Regions from separate parts of the Homo sapiens genome. Here regions 2 and 3 are each reported to be linked to region 1. Evidence: microRNA targets listed by miRTarBase, many of them from high-throughput screens and not tested one by one. Region 1 holds a microRNA gene; each other region holds the end of a gene's coding sequence. Distances are from middle to middle.
Evidence for each region. The annotated mature microRNA hsa-miR-4525 reads GGGGGGAUGUGCAUGCUGGUU and lies in region 1 at 1,176-1,196, shown strand. An mRNA with a match to its seed (bases 2 to 7 or 8) in the 3' UTR can be bound and repressed. Matches are read on the target gene's strand: a 7mer-m8 pairs with bases 2 to 8, a 7mer-A1 pairs with bases 2 to 7 and ends in A, and an 8mer does both.

Region 1 (3,339 bases):
TGAGACAGAGTTTCGCTCTTGTTGCCCAGGCTGGAGTGAAATGGTGTGATCTCGGCTCACCACAACCTCCACCTCCCAGGTTCAAGCAATTCTCCTGCCTCAGCCTCCTGAGTAGCTGGGATTACAGGCACCCGCCACCACGCCCGGCTAATTTCGTATTTTTAGCAGAGACAAGGTTTCTCCATGTTGGTCAGGCTGCTCTCGAACTCCTGACCTCAGGTGATCCACCCCGCTCGGCCTCCCAAAGTGCTGGGATTACAGGCGTGAGCCACCGCGCCCAGGCCCTAATTTTTAAATTTTTTGTAGAGATGAGGTCTCACCATGTTGCCCAGGCTGGTTTCGAATTCCTGGGCTCAAGCGATCCTCTCACCTTAACCTCCCAAAGAACTGGGATTACAGGCGTGAGCCACCGTGCCTGGCTATTTTCCTTTCTGTAAAAGGACTGTTTCCTTGATACTCACTTGGTCACCTGGGAAAACCACAGCAGTGTGGTTTTGGTCTGACAGCAATGGAGGCTACGCCGCGTGCCCCACTGTGGTGAGGTCAAGCTCCTGGTGCTAAGATGCTGATGGTAGCAGTGGCCCATCTAGAGTGGCTGCTGCCAAGATGCCGGCTGCAGCGGAGGCATGGCTGGGCCTCTCGATCCACGGATCAGGCAGCAGCTCCGCCTTCCCTGCGTGCCGCGGCCCGCTGCCCTGGGGCAGCTCTAGACGCGGGCGTCTCTGTGCTCTTGGAGGCCTGGGAAGGCCACCCCTGCCCCCTGCAGGCTTAGAAGTGCCTGCTCCAAATGCCTGGCCTCTCCTCACTCCCCACGCCCGCTCCAGTCGTGGAGCACAGTTGGGGCTGAGCCCAGGTGCTGCTGCAGACCATCCGGGTGGGTCCACACTTGGGGCAGCACGGACACACCAGCCCTTGCCACCTCAGCCCCCTCGGGACTGGGCGCTGTTGAACATGGGAGGGAAGCTGAGGGAGGGCTGAGGGTGGCTCAGTGCTGGCCTGCAGGCGCCCCTTGGCATGAACAAGCTGGGTGCCATGAACAGCAGTGGGAGGCAGACAGACTTCTGGGTGGAAGGGGGCAGGTCCCTGGTGAAGCCACACCTTGAAGCTTCAAGGGGGCCTGGGGCCCGGGCTGCCAGTCCTGCAGACTGGAAGGAGGACTCGGTGCTTTTGTCAGAGGGGGGATGTGCATGCTGGTTGGGGTGGGCTGCCTGTGGACCAATCAGCGTGCACTTCCCCACCCTGAAGACCACAAAAACCCCAGACTCAGAGCAACGCGGACGTCGGGATGACCAGCTGCGGAGAGCTACCCTGTCTGCTGAGAGCTGAACACTTGTCAGGACGACCTGCCTGCAGAGAGAAGCCACCCACTGTGGGTCTCCCCTGAGCTGTTCTAACACTCAGTAAAGCTCCTCCTCGTCTCGCTCACCCTCCACTTGTCTGGGTACCTCATTCTTCCTGGATGCAGGACAATAATTCAGCAGCCACAGAGGTTTCCAGCCGGAAGAGCAACATCCCAAAGGCCCCATCAGTGCCCCGTCAGCGCCCATGCCAAGAAGAGAGAGACAGACGGTGCACTCAGCGTGCCTGCTGGGCTCGGTGGCAAACGTTTGGCCAGCTCAGGAAAGCCTCGTACTGGGTGGGTCAGGGGACTGCTTGGCCGCTCTGTCTGAGCCTCATCACGGGGCAGGTGGCGTCTGCAAAGCGGGTGCTTCGGGCGTTCTCAGTGCTGCTGTATCTTTTGTCCTCTGAATCACTCTCCTCTGACGGGGGGAGTTTGCTCTGGTGTTGCTTGGTCTAATCTACCTGGTGGCGTGATGGGCAGTCTCTGTGGACAGAGTGTGGAGTTTAGCAGGAGACAGAGGAGGATGCGGGAAGCCTGGACTCCATGTCTCTGGGGCTCTGGTGGCACCACAGAAAGAGCCTCTGGAGTCCAGGAAGGGGGCAGGGCCCGGAGGAGGAAGCAGAGGGCAGGGGACAGGCTGGACACAGCAGCTGTGGGAGGGAGGGGTGCTCGGGATCTCATGGAAGGCGCTGCACAGGTGTGCTCAGATCAGGCAGGTGTGCCATGCACGTGCTCATGGCTGCATCAGTGGAAAGTGGAGGACAGAGGCCCAGAGCTGCTGCAACGCCCAGGCCTGCCTGAAGATGTGGGCGACCAGCTGTCCAAGCCAAGTGGGAGGCCACCGGTGGCACCGCCACTGCACACCTCGCTCTGCCCGACAGGAGACCAGGAACTCGGCACACTGCCTCCTGGGATGCAGGGGGGCTTGTGGCCAAGTCCAAGGGTTCTAGACCCTTCGAGGGGGCAGAAGCTGCTTGAGAACCGTGGCCTCCGCAGCCTCGCATTTTTAGAGGAGCCTGTTTCTGGGCACTCACTGGCTACATCGTGGGCTTCTCTGGAAGGAGAGCTGCAGAGGCCGTGTGCTCCACGACGGTCTCCAGGGTGAGGTCTGGTGCGAGCCTCGGCGCTGCTTCTCCCCTCGGCCTCTCAGCGGCGCGCTTCCCTTTAGAATTCTGATTCCCTATTCAGCCATACTTGTCAAAGCACTCAACATCCGATCACAGCCGAGAGTGAGGCCAGGGCTTGTCTCTTGTAGGTTTAGTGCTTTGAGAGATACTGTCAAGTAAATCCTATACATGAAATAAATCAAGCAAATCCCACAAAGGCTGGTCATGTCTTGTTACTAAGCAGTTTGGGTTCCTGTGATTGTACGTGTCATTGTACCTGGTTTTAGGAAGGCAGTGCTCCTACCCGGCATTCTCCAGCCCCTTAACTCAAACCCTCTCTTTCCATGTTCTCAATGACAGACCTGGTGCTCATCCGGAAGCGCTAGAAGTGAACACAGGAGATGTTTCCTAAAGAAGCAGAACACTGGTGTCTGGGGGGTGATGGGGGCGGGGAAACATATTTTTCCCTTTAAAAATATTTATTGGCCGGGAGCAGCAGCTCATGCCTGTAATCCCAGCACTTTGGGAGGCCGAGACAAGTGGATCACCTGAAGTCAGGAGTTCAAGACCAGCCTGACTGATATGATGAAACCCCATCTCTACTAAAAATACAAAAATTAGCTGGACGTGGCGGTGTATGCCTGTAATTCCAGCTACTCAGGAGGCTGAGGCAGGAGAATCACTTGAACTCAGGAGGCCGAGGTTGCAGTGAGCCAAGATTGCACCACTGCACTCCAGCCTGGGCAACAAGAGCGAAATTCCATCTCAAAAAAAAAAAATGTATTGTGGCCAGGCATGGTGGTTCATGCCTGTAATCCCAGCACTTTGGGAGGCTGAAGTGGGAGGATCACTTGAGTCCAGGAGGTTGACCAGCCTGGGCAACACAGCAAT
Region 2 (3,000 bases), 36 Mb from region 1:
CCCGGCCTCCTGCTCAGTGGGGGACCCGGTCAGGTCAGGCTGTATCTCCCCAGACAGAGGGTTTCCGGGAAAATACACAAACCCCACCTGTGCTGTCTGTGAAATATAGCAACTATATAAATAATATAAATACTTTCTCATATATCTTAGCTATATAAATTATTCTCCTTTGCTCTAAAAACTATATATTTGAGGTAGACAAAAATACCCTGTGAGCATTTCCCTTAAAGCTGTAGAATGAGGGGTCAGTGGTCACTCTAGTCCCCAGGGGCCCCAAGAGGGCCGAGGTGGGTCTTCAGGGGTAACTGGAAAAGAAAGGGATGAGAGCAAGGAAGAAGAGAGGGAGAGAGACAGACAGAGAAGACCCCACAAGCCAAGGAGCCCTCAGAACCTGCACTGTGCCATTGACTTGGGGTGTCCATGTTAGCAGCCAGCCACTGCCTAGATGCCTTAGAGCCTGCCCTTTGCCCTCCCACGACCCTGGCACTGCCAGCCATGAAGTCAGAATGCAGGTGGCATGTTGGTGGATCAGGGTGCTCTGGCCTCCACGTTGCTCCCAGGCCCCCTGCTCTGCCAGTGAGGTCCCTGCTGCCTTACGCCCAGCACTGAGCCTGGGTGGAGGCAGAGTTGGGGTCTCGGAGGAGCAAGATGGATTGGGAAGGCAGAGAAAATCTCCATGCTGTGGGGAAGTGGAAGAAAGGAGAAAACCAGCCCTCTCCCCATTTTTCTCCTGCTGCCAAGGTGTGGGCCAGGTGCTTGGGTCAGCAATGTCATTTTAACGAGAGGGGCTCAGGTCAGTTTGGCTTCTCAGCCGGGCCTCTGCAGTCAAAAATCCTTCCAGCATCCAGCAGACTGCCCTGATCCACTGGAGACTGGGCAGCTCCTCCTCGCCCTTGGAGGTCTCAGGGAGTTGGCCAGGGCACAGTCAGCGGGCCTTTGTCCTGGAGCTGGCACAGGCGAGGTTTCTGAGCATTCAGCTGATTCTGAAATTTCCTGTGTTGGTGAAGGGTCAGCAACTCTAGGTTTAGGGAGAAAGGAAGCTGACAGATGGGCGTGGCAGGGCCAGCAAAGTGGCCAAGGGCTTCCCGAAAGAAGTCACTTCCTCCTGGGTGGCATCGGGCCCCACTCTGGGGAAGTACAATGCCTCCAGCAAGGGGACCCCTGCAAGGTCTTCATCCTGAACAAGAGAGGCATGTGCAACAGGAACCCCCAGCCTGGTCCAGGGGCTGTGCATCCATGTGTGCCTGTGTGGAGGTACCAGTCTCTCCTCCTTTCACAGAGGGCCTTGGCAGGTGCTGCTGAAAATGTCCACAGGATCTGAGGAAATTATCAAAGTCACGTCTCCTCCTCAAGTAAGAGCCAAAGTGAGGGCCAAGTGAGAGGCCATTAGGAACTGAAGGAGGCTACCCAGGAGCCAGGCTTAGCAAGGACTCAAGCACCTATAACCCCAGCCAGGGCAAAAGCCTTAACTAGATGAGCAGCCACAAGAATAGAAATGTAACTTCAAGTCATAGCTCGTGAGCCAGCTGTTCTTCAGTATTGTGAACTCAGCTGGTATGGGGGTGTCACAGACCAGGCAGGCCCCAGCCACAGGAAGTCACCAAAGCTCACTCAAGAGCCAGCTGAGAAACTGAGCTCGCCACGTCACTGCCAGGCACCAGGAAGCTGTTGCCCTCCTCCTCTGCGCTGGGAGTGAAGATTCCTTTGGCCAGCAGGGAACACAGGGAGGGGCCGTTGTCTCCCTGTTCAACCTCAGGTGCACTGAGTCCCGCCTTGGTGGCTAGTTCTCCCACCTGTCTTACCTGCACTGGTGGTAGTTTTGAGCACGGCTGGGTGAGTGTGCATAACCCAGCTCTCGAGACAAGAATGAGGCCTCAGCGGAGGCATATTTGAAAAGCCAAATCAAGGACACAGGGCTCCAGGGCACAGATCTCACTCGGGTCCACTCAAGCACAGAAAGCTCTCCTTTCTCTGAACGGATGGCTTCTACCACCTGTGCTTTCTCCCCATCTCTGGCACAGCAAAACCAGGGGAGTGGTGGAGGTGTGTGACACCTGGAGCCCACTGCACCTGAGCAGGGCCACAGGACCCGATTGACCCATCTCAGCCAGGCTCCCGCCTTCACTTCCAGCTGGCACTGCCTGCCTTGGCATTCCTAGCCCAGCAGTTCACCTCCCAAGAACATGCTGGCTCCAAGCCATTCATCCCAGGAAGCAAGATGGAATAGCCCCTCTCTCCCGTCCAAAATTTCAGTCCTGCTGTGCTCTTGGTCTCCCTTATTTCCCTCCATGTCTTTCTCACTCTGCCCTCCTCTCCAAGTCCTCAACAAGGTTGGGGATGCTTGGGTTAAGGGAGGAGGCTTTGCTTCTCTTTGTTGAGTATCGAGGGAGGCAAAAGGCTGGCCAAGGAATGGTGGTGAGTGGCACACTCGTGTGCATTGGCACACATGCCGGTTTATGCATGCATGTGATGACAGTCTGCCCAGAGGGCCGGCTGGGCAGCTTGAAGGGTGCCACAGGAGGTCCTGGCAGTGCCAGACTGGCTTGCTGGGCAGTAGGCCTAGTGCTTGCAGGTGTACACAAGCTCCTCCTGCACACATTGCTGGCACTCCACGTAGCAGCACCACTGCACCTGGCAGTGGCAGGAGAAGGCCACCAGGCGGCTCTGGGTGTCATAGCCCCGCCCGCAGCACAGGCTGCTGCAGCTGGCCTCCCGGGAGCACACCCTACCTGCTGTGCCAGGTGAGTACTTGCTGGGCCGGCAGAAGCTGGGTGAGTCCTCCATGTACACCAGGTCCCCAGACCTTGGGGCCAGGCCTTTGGTGAGGCTGCCCTGCCTGGCAGGGGCCCACAGCTCTAGGCGGCCCAAGGCCTCATTGGTGGCACTGGACACCTTGACAGCCGAGTCATAGCGCAGTTTCAGCACCTGGCCCGTCTCACGGAACGGGGAGAGCTGCTTCCAGCAGGTGCGCACGGCACAGGAGCCTGATACGCCATGGCA
Region 3 (3,339 bases), not on the chromosome of region 1:
CTCCAGCCTGGGTGACAGAGCAAGACCCCATCTCGAAAATAAATAAATAATAAAAAAAATTGGCCAGGTGTGGTGGCGTGCACCTGTAATCCCAGCTACTTGGGAAGCTGAGGCAGGAGAATCGCTTGAACCCGGGAGGCAGAGGTCAGAGGTTGCAGTGAGCTGAGATCATGCCACTGCACTCCAGCCTGGGTGACAGAGCTGGCATGCAAAAAAAAAAAAAAAAAATTAGCTGGGTGTGGTGGCACATGCCTGTAATCCCAGCTACTTGGGAGGTTGAGGCAGGAGAATTGCCTGAACCTGGGGCTAACCACTGGAAAGAGAGCACAGCCTCAAGCCACACTCAGCCTCAAGTCATCCAGGTGACCCAGAGAACAAGGGCCTGGAAGAAGCGGGTGAGTGGGTGAGGTGGAGGTGTAGATTGGAGTCCTAGGCCTTTGGGAGGCCCTCCAACCTCCCTTCTGCACCAACTTCTCCTGGGTGGCTGTGGCAGGCAGCTTTCCCTCCTGGGCTGTAAGGGGATAGATGCAGGTGAGGTGACTGTAGTGGTCTATTTTCAAGGATGCCCTTATTCTTGGGGGCAAGATGGAACAGCAGGAAGAAAGGGTGTGGGTGCTGGGCTGACAGAGGCCCCGATGCTGGCTCCGCCCATCCTGGCTGCACTGGTGAGCGGCATCATAGGAGAAGCTCCCAGAGTCCAGAGTTGGGAGAGCCAGATGGGATCAGGGAACCTCCCAGCATCAACCCTGGCCCTTCCTCATGGCCCCTAAAGCCCTGCAGGGTATGGCTCTGCAGGCTACCCAGCCTCATCCATCTGGAATGCACCAGGCTAGACCTGGCCCCAGGGTCTTTGTACTGGGCGTGCTGTTGCCCAGACCTGGGGCTGTCGGCTTCCTGCATGGGCAGACCCTTGCCATCGCTGAAATATCAGCGCACACATCCCCTGGGAGAGGTCTTCCTGGGCCTCCAGCTGTGCCTTCTCACAGGCTGCATCCAGACATTCACATCCTCTCCCCTGGACCCCATCTGTCTCTTGTTTTGAGATGAAGTCTCCCTGTGTTGCCCAGGCTGCAGTGTAGTCCCATGATCTCGGTTCACTGCAACCTCTGCCTCCCGAGTAGCTGGGATTACAGGCATGTGCCACTACACCCAGCTAATTTTTGTATTTTAAGTAGAGCTGGGGTTTCACTATGTTGGGCAGGCTGGTCTGGAACTCCTGAGCTCAAGTGATCCACCCACCTCGGCCTCCCAAAGTGCTGGGATTACAGGTGGGAACCACTGTGCCTGGTGCACTTTTTTTTTAAACATAGATGGAATCTCACTGTGTTGACCAGGCTGGGCTCAAGCGACCCTCCCACCCTGGCTTCCAAAGAGCTGAAATTACAGGCCATGACACTACACCCCACCTCTTTATTAAAAAAAAAAAAAGGCCGGGCGCGGTGGCTCACGCCTGTAATCCCAGCACTTTGGGAGGCCAAGGCAGGTGGATCACGAGGTCAGGAGATCCAGACCATCCTGGCTAACACGGTGAAACCCCGTCTCTACCAAAAATACAAAAAATTAGCCAGGCGTGGTGGCAGGCGCCTGTAGTCTCAGCTACTCGGGAGGCTGAGGCAGGAGAATGGCATGAACCCGGGAGGCGGAGCTTGCAGTGAGCCAAGATCACGCCACTGCACTCCAGCCGGGGCCACAGAGCAAGACTCTGTCTCAAAAAAAAAAAAAAAAAAAAGAGCCGGGCACGGTGACTCACACCTGTAATCCCAGCACTTTGGGAGGCCTAGGCAGGCAGATCACAAGGTCAAGAGATCAAGACCATCCTGACCAACATGGTGAAACCCTGTCTCTACTAAAAATACAAAAATTAGCTGCGCATGGTGGCGTGCGCCTGTAGTCCCAGCTACTCGGGAGGCTGAGACAGAAGAATTGCTTGAACCCGGGAAGTGGAGGTTGCAGTGAGCAGAGATCGTGCCACTGTACTTCAGCCTGGTGACAGAGTGAGACTCCGTCTCAAAAATAAATAAATAAATAAATAAATAATAAAAAGAGAGACCTCACTCTGGTGAGGTCTTCCAGCCTAGGCTGGAGTGCAGTGGTGCAATCATAGCTCACTAAAGCCTCAAATTCCTGTGCTCAAGTCATCCTCCTACCATCTGTCTCTTTTGAATTCAGTACATCCACTAGGTAAAGCAATGATGCCACAGAACCCATGCAGCAGCCTCAAGGTAGGGCCCACTGGGGTCCTGGATTTCAGGTGAGTAAACAGTGAACGCTGGGGTAACGAGTGGAGCTGGGCAGTAACACCCCCAGAGTCCAGCTGAGTCAGACCTCTCAACCCACTTGCCCCTGCTACATCACCCCACTTCTCTATGCCTCAGTTTCTCCTCTGTAAAGTGAGTATGTTGTGCCCGGAGAGGAGACCCCCAGCTCCAGCTGGCTCAACCACATCCACCATGCTGTGTGACTCCAGATGCATCACAGGCTGTCTCTGGCCCAGCCCCAGACAGCGGGAGAAGAAAGCTCAGGAGTCCGTGGAAACTGCAGGGTGGGATGCTTTATTTCACTGTGGCGGGGAGGGAACCTGGACAGGGGGCGGCAGGCGGGGTGGGGGGCTGGCACTCAGGCGGGGACTAGGCAGGGGAAGGGCTGCCCCCAGGCCTGTTGAGGAGAAACTGAGGCCAGCCCTGGCGGAGACCTAGCCCAGCGGGGTAAGGAGGGTGGGGGAAAACTGGGTCTGAAGGAATGAGGGCCCCCTCCCTCTGGGCTTTCCTCCTAGAGGGCCTCAGTCCCTCCTGCTGGCTGGGCTGCACGACCCCCAATCCTTGCTCCCCTAACCCGGAGGAGGGGGCCAGACCAGGGAGGGCAGTGGACAGGGAGCCTGGGGGAGTTGGGGAGCGCAGGGCAGGGTCCATGGTGTGCAGAGGGGGTGGCAGCCACCTAGGTGGTCAGTTCCTGGCAGCGATGACCACAGAGAGTGCCACACCCCCCAAGGCAACAGCAGTCGCCCCAAACAGCCACTTCCATGGGATGGACTGTGGATAAAAAGGAGGGGAGAGAAGGGTGGAGGGAGGTCAAGACTGGCCTCTGGGGCCTCAGCTGCCAGCACAGCCCAAACAGACCTCCCAACAAATCATTGCCTGACTATGTATTTCCCACTTCCTGGCAAACTCCTACTCATGCAGCAAAACCCAAATCAAATGGCCCCTCCTCCAGGACACCGCCCCTCGTGCCCTGGAAGAGGCTCCACAGTCCACCCCCAGCCCTCCAGCTTGAGTTCCACCTTCGACTCCACTCATGATCACACAGGGCTGGGCTCTCTCCACGTCCCCTGCATCGCCCAGG

Region 2: miRTarBase lists WNT9B as a target of hsa-miR-4525. Seed matches in the 3' UTR shown: 7mer-A1 at 18-24.
Region 3: the mRNA of FKBP8 is a reported target of hsa-miR-4525. Seed matches in the 3' UTR shown: 7mer-A1 at 2,877-2,883 and 7mer-A1 at 2,716-2,722.

Annotation. Positions count from the first base shown.
Region 1 is chr17:82,666,138-82,669,476 of GRCh38, reverse strand. It overlaps MIR4525 (microRNA 4525), which reads left to right and starts at 1,170; the gene lies at 1,170-1,244. The region is part of intron 1 of RAB40B (RAB40B, member RAS oncogene family); the gene reads left to right. RefSeq lists an enhancer at 516-695.
Region 2 is chr17:46,876,278-46,879,277 of GRCh38, reverse strand. WNT9B (Wnt family member 9B) reads right to left here. Exons shown (of 4, transcript NM_003396.3): 4 at 1-3,000. The coding sequence ends at 2,560. It also overlaps a transcript of LRRC37A2 not described here. Among named protein-coding and RNA genes, the nearest start is that of WNT9B, 26 kb to the right of the region's middle. RefSeq lists enhancers at 450-949, 2,259-2,859.
Region 3 is chr19:18,529,227-18,532,565 of GRCh38, forward strand. FKBP8 (FKBP prolyl isomerase 8) reads right to left here. Exons shown (of 9, transcript NM_012181.5): 9 at 2,537-3,029. The coding sequence ends at 2,943. Among named protein-coding and RNA genes, the nearest start is that of ELL, 8.8 kb to the left of the region's middle. RefSeq lists an enhancer at 282-1,167.